Linked DNA regions of Homo sapiens: region 2 is linked to region 1. Evidence: fine-mapped expression QTL. A gene starts in region 1. The other region holds a variant in brackets. All regions are shown on one strand. Distances are between the middles of the regions. Region 1 holds the start of MACO1 (macoilin 1). Region 2 has its middle 8.6 kb from the start of MIR3917.

Region 1 (4,391 bases):
CCCTGGGGTAGATGTTGATTAAGGGAGGGGTGATTACAGGCCAGAGAGAGTTCTGTGAAACCCAGGACAAAACAAAATGGCATCTACTTCCTGGGAAGTTTTTTTTTTTTTTTTTTTTTTGAGACAAAGTCTCGCTCTCCTGCCTCAGCCTCTCGAGTAGCTGGGACTACAGGTGCCCGCCACCATGCCCAGCTAATTTTTTGTATTTTTAGTAGAGATGGGGTTTCACCATGTTATCCAGGATGGTCTCCGATCTCCTGACCTCGTGATCTACCCGCCTCGGCCTCCCAAAGTGCTGGGATTACAGGCGTGAGCCACCGCGCCCAGCCCTTCCTGGGAAGTTTTAAAAATGCACTGGAAGACTAACTGCCCCATTGTCGTTGAGGGATTACACTGATAAAGCTACTGGATAGGACATTCTGCAATATTTTCAGAAATATTTATAAAAGCTGCATTAAAACATGTAAAAATGCTTATGTTAAAAACAGTATGACTACTATTCTAGTATGACTACTATTCTAGTATGACCACTATTCTATTTAATAGCAATAGTAACATTATCATCCATAGGGGAAAATTGGAAAACAAGCAAATACAATAAAATGTCAACTGTATTTGTGTTAATGTGATGAGACTCATTGGTGTTTTTTCCTTTTCGGCCACTTTCCTACATTTTCCCCAGTTTTCTCTAATGATAAACATTCTTTTTATTTCTCTTAAAAAAAAACACCATGCGGACTTTTCTAAGTGTTACTTTGCCATACGTACGTGGCAGGGGAGTTATAAGGAGTAAATGAGCAAATACACGCAAATTACCCAGCACGGTGCCTGGCATAAAATCGGCGCTCAATGAGTACGAAGCGTGAAGGGTCGCCGGCCCCGCGTCCCCGCCTTGCAGGAGCCCGGACCCGCCGAGCAGGCTCCCGGTCCGGCCCGGCCCGGCCCGGAGGCCGATGCTTCGCGGTAGTGCCCTCGCGGGTCCTGCGGACTCGGCGCCCGCGGGGCCCACAGCGCTGCCCAGCCTGTGGACGTGGAGCCCGGGCCGCACCGCCGCACACGCCCCGGGCATCTCTGCGCTACGTCGCGCGCCCCCACGGCTCCGCCCCGTGGCGTAACCCGGGGCGGGGCCGCCACCTCCGATTGGCCGGCGCGCTGTCACCACGTCGCGGGAAGCTGGCAGGGTGTGTGTCTGTGTGCGTGTGGGGTTTGCTTTGTCATTCGTACCCCCGGTGCGCGCTGACGCGGTCGGCCTGGCCGAGCTCTCCAGCATCCGCAGAAGGGTCCCCGGCGCTGTTCCTGGGATGCTCCCTTACATAATGACGCGACTGGCTGAAGCGCACGTCAGCGCAGACACCGCACATGCCGCAAACCCGGGCCTTCCGATTTCATACATTGCTAGACGAGAGCCTACAATGCCATGCCGTACGGTATGCTCTAGTAGGGATTACAATACAATGAAACGCAACCCAATAATAATAAAGCATACCTTCGCAACAAGGCGTAATATAGGATGTTATATTTATAGGGCCTATTTATAAGCCTCTATTTAAATCTTTTCTGATAGGCTCAGCCGGGGACCCAGACACTATAATGATTGGCGCATTCTTCCGTCCTTCAAAGGGGCGGGTTCTAGAGTCAGTTTTGCCTCAGCGGGCCCTGGGATTGGCCGACAGCGGTTTACCGGTGGCTTCTATTGGCCTCCCGGGCCGTCCGTCGGAGCCGAGGAGGCGGGGCAGGCGGCTGGCTGGTGCTGGGCGGGCGGGCCCCGGAATTGTCATTTCTTTGTTTCCGAAGGCGGAGGAGGCTCCGAGCCCCCCCTCCCCGTGCTACCCCCTCCCCCCGGGTGCTGGCTCCATGTCTGTGTGACCGGCCTCAGGGGTAGAGTCCAGGCCCGACGCGGGGCGGGCCAGCGGCGGCGGCAGCTGAGGTGAGAGACGGCGGCGGCGGCGCGGGCACCCGGCCCCCCAGCGGGAGGATGAAGCGGCGGAACGCCGACTGCAGTAAGCTCCGCCGCCCCCTAAAGCGGAACCGGATCACCGAGGGCATTTACGGCAGGTGAGCGGCTGCACCCCCACTCCGCGGGCGCGGGCCCTGCGGTCCCCCTCCAGCTCCGAGGGGCCTGGCCCCGTTATGTAACCCCGAGTAGGCCGCACGCCCGCGCCGGGGGCTCTCCTAAGGAGCGCTGGCCCCGGAGCCGCTGGCCCGCCCGCCGGGGTCCGCCCCGGGTGCGCGGGGCGTGGCGAGGGTCGGCCCGGCCGGGCGGGCAGGGCGCGGCGGGCGCTGGCTGAGGGAGCCGCCGCGCCGCCGTTGGAAGCGCCGGGCCCGCCGGGGGGAGGGGCGGAGAGCCCCCAACCAGCCCGGCGTTCCTCAGCATCCCGGCCATGCCGCTGGGCCGGGAGGGCCGCTTCCGGGACCTCTGACTGGCCGCCGCTGGCCCCCGAGCCCCCCGGTGGCCTGGGGGCTTGCCGGCCGGAGCCAGGAGGCGCGTGGACCACAGCGCGGGGGGGTGGGGGAGGCTGACAAAGTTGAGAGCCCACTGTGGCCCCTCGTTCCCCCAAGCTGCCAGCATACTGGCCTGGGGCCATGCTGTCACTTCTTTCACCTTCTGCTTCCCATATGGGATCTCAAACTTGGCACCCAGGGCTGAAGCTGATACCCCCAAATCATGCCCTGTGGCCCTGCTCCAGATTCGGAAGGGTCTGATGACCAGTTTTTCAGCAAATATTGTTTTGACAATTCCAAGCAGATAGCTTGCTTTGAACGTTTTTAAAAAGGGATTTTCTCCAAACTCTTTTTTTTTTTTTTCATCCGCAAGAAAAGCAGTGTCCCTTTAAATAGAAATTGAATTCAGTCCACCGGTAGAGAAAGACAACAGGTTCATGGGGCAACTTACTATCATAGCTTCCCCAAGTCGATTTGTGTACGACTGTTATTTTCTGGTTCTTCTCAGAATGTTACTTGTAAATGGTATTTGCCTTGATACAGATTTCGGTGGAGAAGTAATTAGTTTACAAAGAAGAATTCTCAGCATGTGGATGTAGGCTTAATTGAGTCCTCATGGTGTTTTACAATTAGCTTCTCTAGCTGTGGGATTTCAAGAAATATGTGAGGTAGCTGATGACACCCAAGTTGTCTTAACATAACTGTACACCTTGCACATGCTCTTGTTTACAGATGTGGAATGATTGCTTTCCACAAGCAGCTGACTGATGTAAACACTGGGGATTTTCTTCAAGTTTAAAAGCATTAAGGAATCAAAGTAAAAATTTCTTGGGTATATTCTTATAAAATGAGCCATAGAGCATAGGAGTAATTCATTCATTCATCAGTTATATATACTATGTGCCAGGAACATTTCTAATCAGTGAAGATAGAGCAGTGAGTAAAACAGACTCTAATCTATGCTGGATGAATCGAACTTGACCATTTTAACTTGAACTGTGAAAGCAAACAATTTTTTCTACACATAGATGGAGGAAAGGTCTCTTCAATTCACGTTACATACACTATACATTCTTGAATTAAAGAAAGTTTTTCCCCTTTGGCTATTGAAAAATATTTGACCAACTTAACATTAATGGTAACATAAAAATAGGAAAGGGATATTAAACCGAGTTGGTAGACTTAGCACAACTGTGGCATTTGAATAGCTGCTATTTACAGTAACATAAGATGATGTACCTCCATTTATAGCAAGAAGATTGAGAGTCCCATATTGTTTACGTGTTTTCTGCTGTATTTCCATTTCTCTGTACTTGAACAAATAGACCCAGTTTACAACCTGCGCCATAATAGCTACTCAGTGTGAATCGATGTGAAGAAGTGAATTCATCGTTTAATGAAGATTTATCATCTTACTGATGGCTTTTGAAATTTGAATTTTCTTACCCTAAAGGTTAATTGTAAATACTCTTTGCAAGTTATTCAGAGGTTCATCTGCAAAATTTTAAAAACCGACAGTGCATTAGCCTTAAATCTTCTTATGCTTCTCTGTTTTGCATTCTTTAAGTTAAATGTTAATAAAAGACCTAAATGTATTTCTAACTGTCTTTCCTGGTTGGAGTATCATATATCAAATGAGCGTTTCAACTCACTTATCTGTTTCTTGGTTTATATTATGGAGTATTGGACTGAAGAACAAGATTTTTTTTTTTTTGCCCAATTCTGTTTTTAAAGAGATTTAGAAAAATTTCCTGTTATTTCTAAAGCAAACAGGATGAGTGGACTGGTTATAAACTAGAATGCTTGAGGATTCATGAATATCAAATTTCTGGTGATCATCAAATTTAAGTCTATGCTAAGTTGTTTTTCACACCATCTATTGCCCATTTTGTTTCTCAACAACATGTGGCCAATTTTGGATTCATTAAACAGAGAGCCTTGTTTTTTTT
Region 2 (4,391 bases), 480 kb after region 1:
AGATCTTATTTATTTAATTAATTCTAAGATGTATTTTTTCCCCCACATTTTTTATCTTTGAAATCAGTTGGTCCTCATAGTCAATAAATAGCATGTTATAATTATTGGCAGCATTTTATCTTTTTTGTTGTTCTTGTTGTTTTGAGACAGGTTCTCACTTTGTCACCCTGGTTGGAGTGCAGTGGTGTGAACATGGCTCACTGCAGCTTCAACCTCTCAGGCTCAAGTGATCCTCCTGCCTCAGCCTTCTGAGTAGCTGGGACAACAGGTATGTGTCACCATGCCTGGCTAATTTTAAATTATTTTTTAGAGATGGGGTCTCACCACTTTGCCCAGGCTGGTCTTGAACTCCTGGTCTTAAGTGATCCTCCTGCCTTGGCCTCCCAAGGTGGTGGGGTTACAGGCATGAGCCAGTCCAGGCACACCTGGCCTAGACTGGAATCTTTTAAATGTTAATAGCTCACATAGAATGCTTACCACACAGCAGCCACTGGTCTAAACACTCCACATGTACTAACTCACTTAATTCTCATGACAGTCTTATGAGGTATTATTAGCTTAATTGCAAAGATGAGGCAATGAAGGTGACCAACTCTCCTGGTTTACCAGGGACTGAAGGGTTTTTCCAGGACTTGAGACTTTTAGTGCTAAAACAGGGAAAGTTCCAGGCAAGCCCAGATGAGTTGGTCATTCTAAATAAAGGAACTGATTCAGAATGCCTTTTTTAGAGGGAAAAATAATAATAAAATAAAGGAAACTGAGGCATGGAAAGATAGTAGCTTTTTAAAGTTTGTTTTTGTTTTTGTTTTTGTTTTTGTTTTAGACAGAGTTTCGCTCTTGTTGGTCAGGCTGGAGTGCAATGGCGCAATCTCGGCTCACCGCAACCTCCACCTTCCGGGTTCAAGCGATTCTCCTGCCTCAGCCTCCCGAGTAGCTGGGATTACAGGCATGCACCACCATGCCCGGCTAATTTTGTATTTTTAATAGAGACGTTTCTCCATGTTGGTTTCTCTATGTTGGTCAGGCTGGTCTCGAACTCCTGACCTTAGGTGATCCACCTGCCTCGGCCTCCCAAAGTGCTGGGATTACAGGCATAAGCCACCGTACCCGGCCCCTTTTTTAGATATGTCAGATGGGGTCCTTGTCCTAGGCCCTACTCTTTAGAGGGCTGCACCCTAATCCTCCTCCAGCTGTGTCCCTCCTCACAGTTCCCTGGGTCCAAAGAGATATGCCCGCCTGGAGCCTGTGCACCCCTTCTAGACCACCCTCTCAATACCCAGGACTCCAGAATTCCCTGCCAAAATGGCCCAAGTCCATTTTCAGCATCTGTGCCAACCCTTTCCCTGGTTCCATCCTCCCAAGGGCAAACTTCCTGCCAGTGAGTGCACCCCTGTGCTTAGAGCTGGCTGTTTGCAAGGGGTGTGAACAGAGGCTGAGCATGTGGGCTGGGGAATGCACACAGGAATGAGAAGAGAAGGGAGCTGGCTCTGCTACATTCTCACATGGAACTCCAGGGAATCCAAGAATTCTCAACTCAAAACCTGGCTTTCTAGGTTGTTATGGAGGTATATTTGTCAAGGTAGGAGGATAGAACATATATTTTTAAAAAATAGTTTGTTAGCTTGATTTATAACTCTTAAATACTTAGCCATATGGTATGTGGGCTTCCCTTCTATACTCCTGCCCTGGGTCTGGCAAACATTAGCAGCAGGTTTGCAGCAAGCTTAGATCACTTGTTCAACTAGGCCACACAGAAGCGGCAGAGCTTTTGTAGTCTGGCCCTGACTCTATGCTTTCAGCTATCACTCTAAACTGTTTTATCAGGCTACCCCTGTTATTTTACAAATAGGGGAGAAAAGACCAGAGAACTCTAGACATTTGCCCAATGTCACATGGCTAGTTCGTGTCATGTCAGGGGGAATTTGAATCCTGTCCTTTATATGATGCAGCAGGTACTGCTCAGTTACTATTTGTATGAGTGTGGGCACGTGACTTCCCCTTTTGGGGCCTGTGTTCCATCATCTGTGAAATGGGAAGAACACCCCTACCTCATAGAGCTGCCAGGACTAAATAAAATAATATATGTAAAGTCCCTAGCATTGTGTCTATACACAATAAACCCTCAGTAAGTGACAGCTAAGGTATTAGCTATCAAGGACAGCTCTGATCATGCCATTTTCTGCTTGAAAACATTCGACAAATTCAACTTTGGGACACATGATATGAGAAAAGCAAAAATTTCTGAAACCTAAAAAAAAAAAAAAAAAGACTCCCTTTCTTGGCTTAGAGGCCAAGGATTCCTGGCACAGCAGCTATAACCCTCCGTGAAGTCATTGCAGGTCTTTATCTCCATGAGGACCTCCAGGTCAGTCTTCCTCAAGGACCTCCCCCTCCTTTTCCCTGAGATTCTTTAATTCTTGATGCAT[G/T]TGAAAATCTGTCTTCTTGGGCCGGTGGCAGTGGCTCACGCCTGTAATCTCAGCACTTTGGGAGGCCGAGGCGGGCGGATCACGAGGTCAGGAGATCGAGACCATCCTGGCTAACACGGTGAAACCCCATCTCTACTAAAAATACAAAAAATTAGCCAGGTGTGGGGGCGGGCGCCCATAGTCCCAGCTACTCAGGAGGCTGAGGCAGGAGAATGGCATGAACCCGGGAGGCAGAGCTTGCAGTGAGCCGAGATCACGCCACTGCACTCCAGCCTGGGTGACAGAGCAAGACTCTGTCTAAAAAAAAAAAAAGAAAATCTGTCTTCTCGGATGGATCGTTATAGAGAAGCACAACTAAGATGAACGGAAGAGCTCTGTGATCACTGGACTTAGCCAACAATAGAATGGACTGGGACCTATTCATGAATGAGATTCTTGTTATGGGACATGTGCCGACAAAGTCAAACATCAGAAATGTTGAATCGGGATTCTTGCATTAGAAGAGAGGTGGACTAAATGACCTCTCTTCCTGCTTTAAGGTCCTTTTTTAATGAGATGGGGAAAGGCTCATTATATTGCGCTAAATAGAACAAACAAAGCCTACCCAATTGCACAATATGAGTTCGACTAGGAACAAAATACATTGAAGAAAATGCACCAAAATAATAGTTCTGGAAAGAAAATAACAATTGAGTTTGCTTTCCTTCTTTATACTATTCTGGATTTTCCAAACTTCTTAAAATGAACTTGTATTACTTGTATTAATGACAAAAATTATATATATATTTTTTCTTTCTGAGGCAGAGTTTTGCTCTTGTTGCCCAAGCTAGAGTGCAATGGCATGATCTCGGCTCACTGCAACTTCTGCCTCCCAGGTTCAAGCCATTCTCCTGCCTCAGCCTCCGAAGTAGCTGGGATCACAGGTGCACGCCATTACGCCCAGCTAATTTTTTGTATTTTTAGTAGAAACGGGGTCTCACCATGTTGAACAGGCTGGTCTCAAACTCCTGACCTCAGGTGATCTGCTGGCCTCGGCCTCCCAAAGTGCTGGGATTACAGGCGTGAGCCGCTGTGCCTTGCCCCAACAATTATATTTAAAAAATAGAAGAGACTTTTGTCCTCCTTGCCCATCTTATGTCCTGTGTCTCTGAAACCTCTATATTCACTCTCACTCCTTCCACTCCCCCACCAAGTTTCAGCTTTATTGGACTGTTGGCAGCTCTCTGAAAGGTTACATGCCTATATGTCCCATTGTTTTGCTGACACCAACTGCCTTAGTTCAGGCTGTTGTAACAGAACAACATTGACTGGGTGGCTTAACCAACAAACATTTATAACTCACAGTCCTGGAGGCTGGGAAGTCCAAGTTCAAGGTGCCAGCAGATCTGATGGCTGGTGAGGGCTCTTTTCCTGGTTTGCAGAAAGACATCTTCTTGTTGAGATGGCTGAGAGCACAAAGAGATTCCGTGTCTCCTCTTTTTATACGGGCACTAATCCCATTCATGAGGGCTCTAGCCTCATGACCTAATTACCTCCCAAAGGCTCTACCTCCAAATACCATTACAGTGGGCCATAGGCTTCAACATATGAATGTGGGAGAGAACACAACATTCAGTCTACAGTACCAGCCCTCATAAGGCCTTGAGTCCCTTGGCTTCTGTCTATATTGAAATTCTCTCCACCTTCAAGGTCTTGACTAACCTCTCTCTCCCTCACCACTATGCTGCTGTTGCAGCTATCCATATACATGTCTGTCCCTCTCACTAGTGAGTAAACTCCTTCAGGGCAGGATCCTATGTGATTCTGTCTTGCCATCCCTGAAGTGCCACAGACACTCTGTGAGTGTTGAATCATTTGGCCAGTGTCTTTTTGGCCACCAAACAACACTTAGGGCTTAAGGTCAGATGGCATATCTGAGTGTATAATCTGCAGTCTAGTCCCTTGCAAATTCAAAAAGACTATTCC

The links. PIP is the estimated chance that this variant, and not a neighbour inherited with it, causes the effect. A credible set is the group of variants that fine-mapping cannot tell apart.
Region 2: its variant is the best candidate, but not a certain one, in a credible set for the expression of MACO1 in lung (TOPMed, PIP 0.54).

Annotation. Positions count from the first base shown.
Region 1 is chr1:25,429,124-25,433,514 of GRCh38, forward strand. MACO1 (macoilin 1) reads left to right here and starts at 1,774. Exons shown (of 11, transcript NM_018202.6): 1 at 1,774-2,055. The coding sequence starts at 1,976. It also overlaps a transcript of RHCE not described here. RefSeq lists silencers at 800-1,239, 1,630-2,289.
Region 2 is chr1:25,912,824-25,917,214 of GRCh38, forward strand. No RefSeq gene overlaps it. Among named protein-coding and RNA genes, the nearest start is that of MIR3917, 8.6 kb to the left of the region's middle. The variant G/T (reference allele first, on the strand shown) is at 2,427.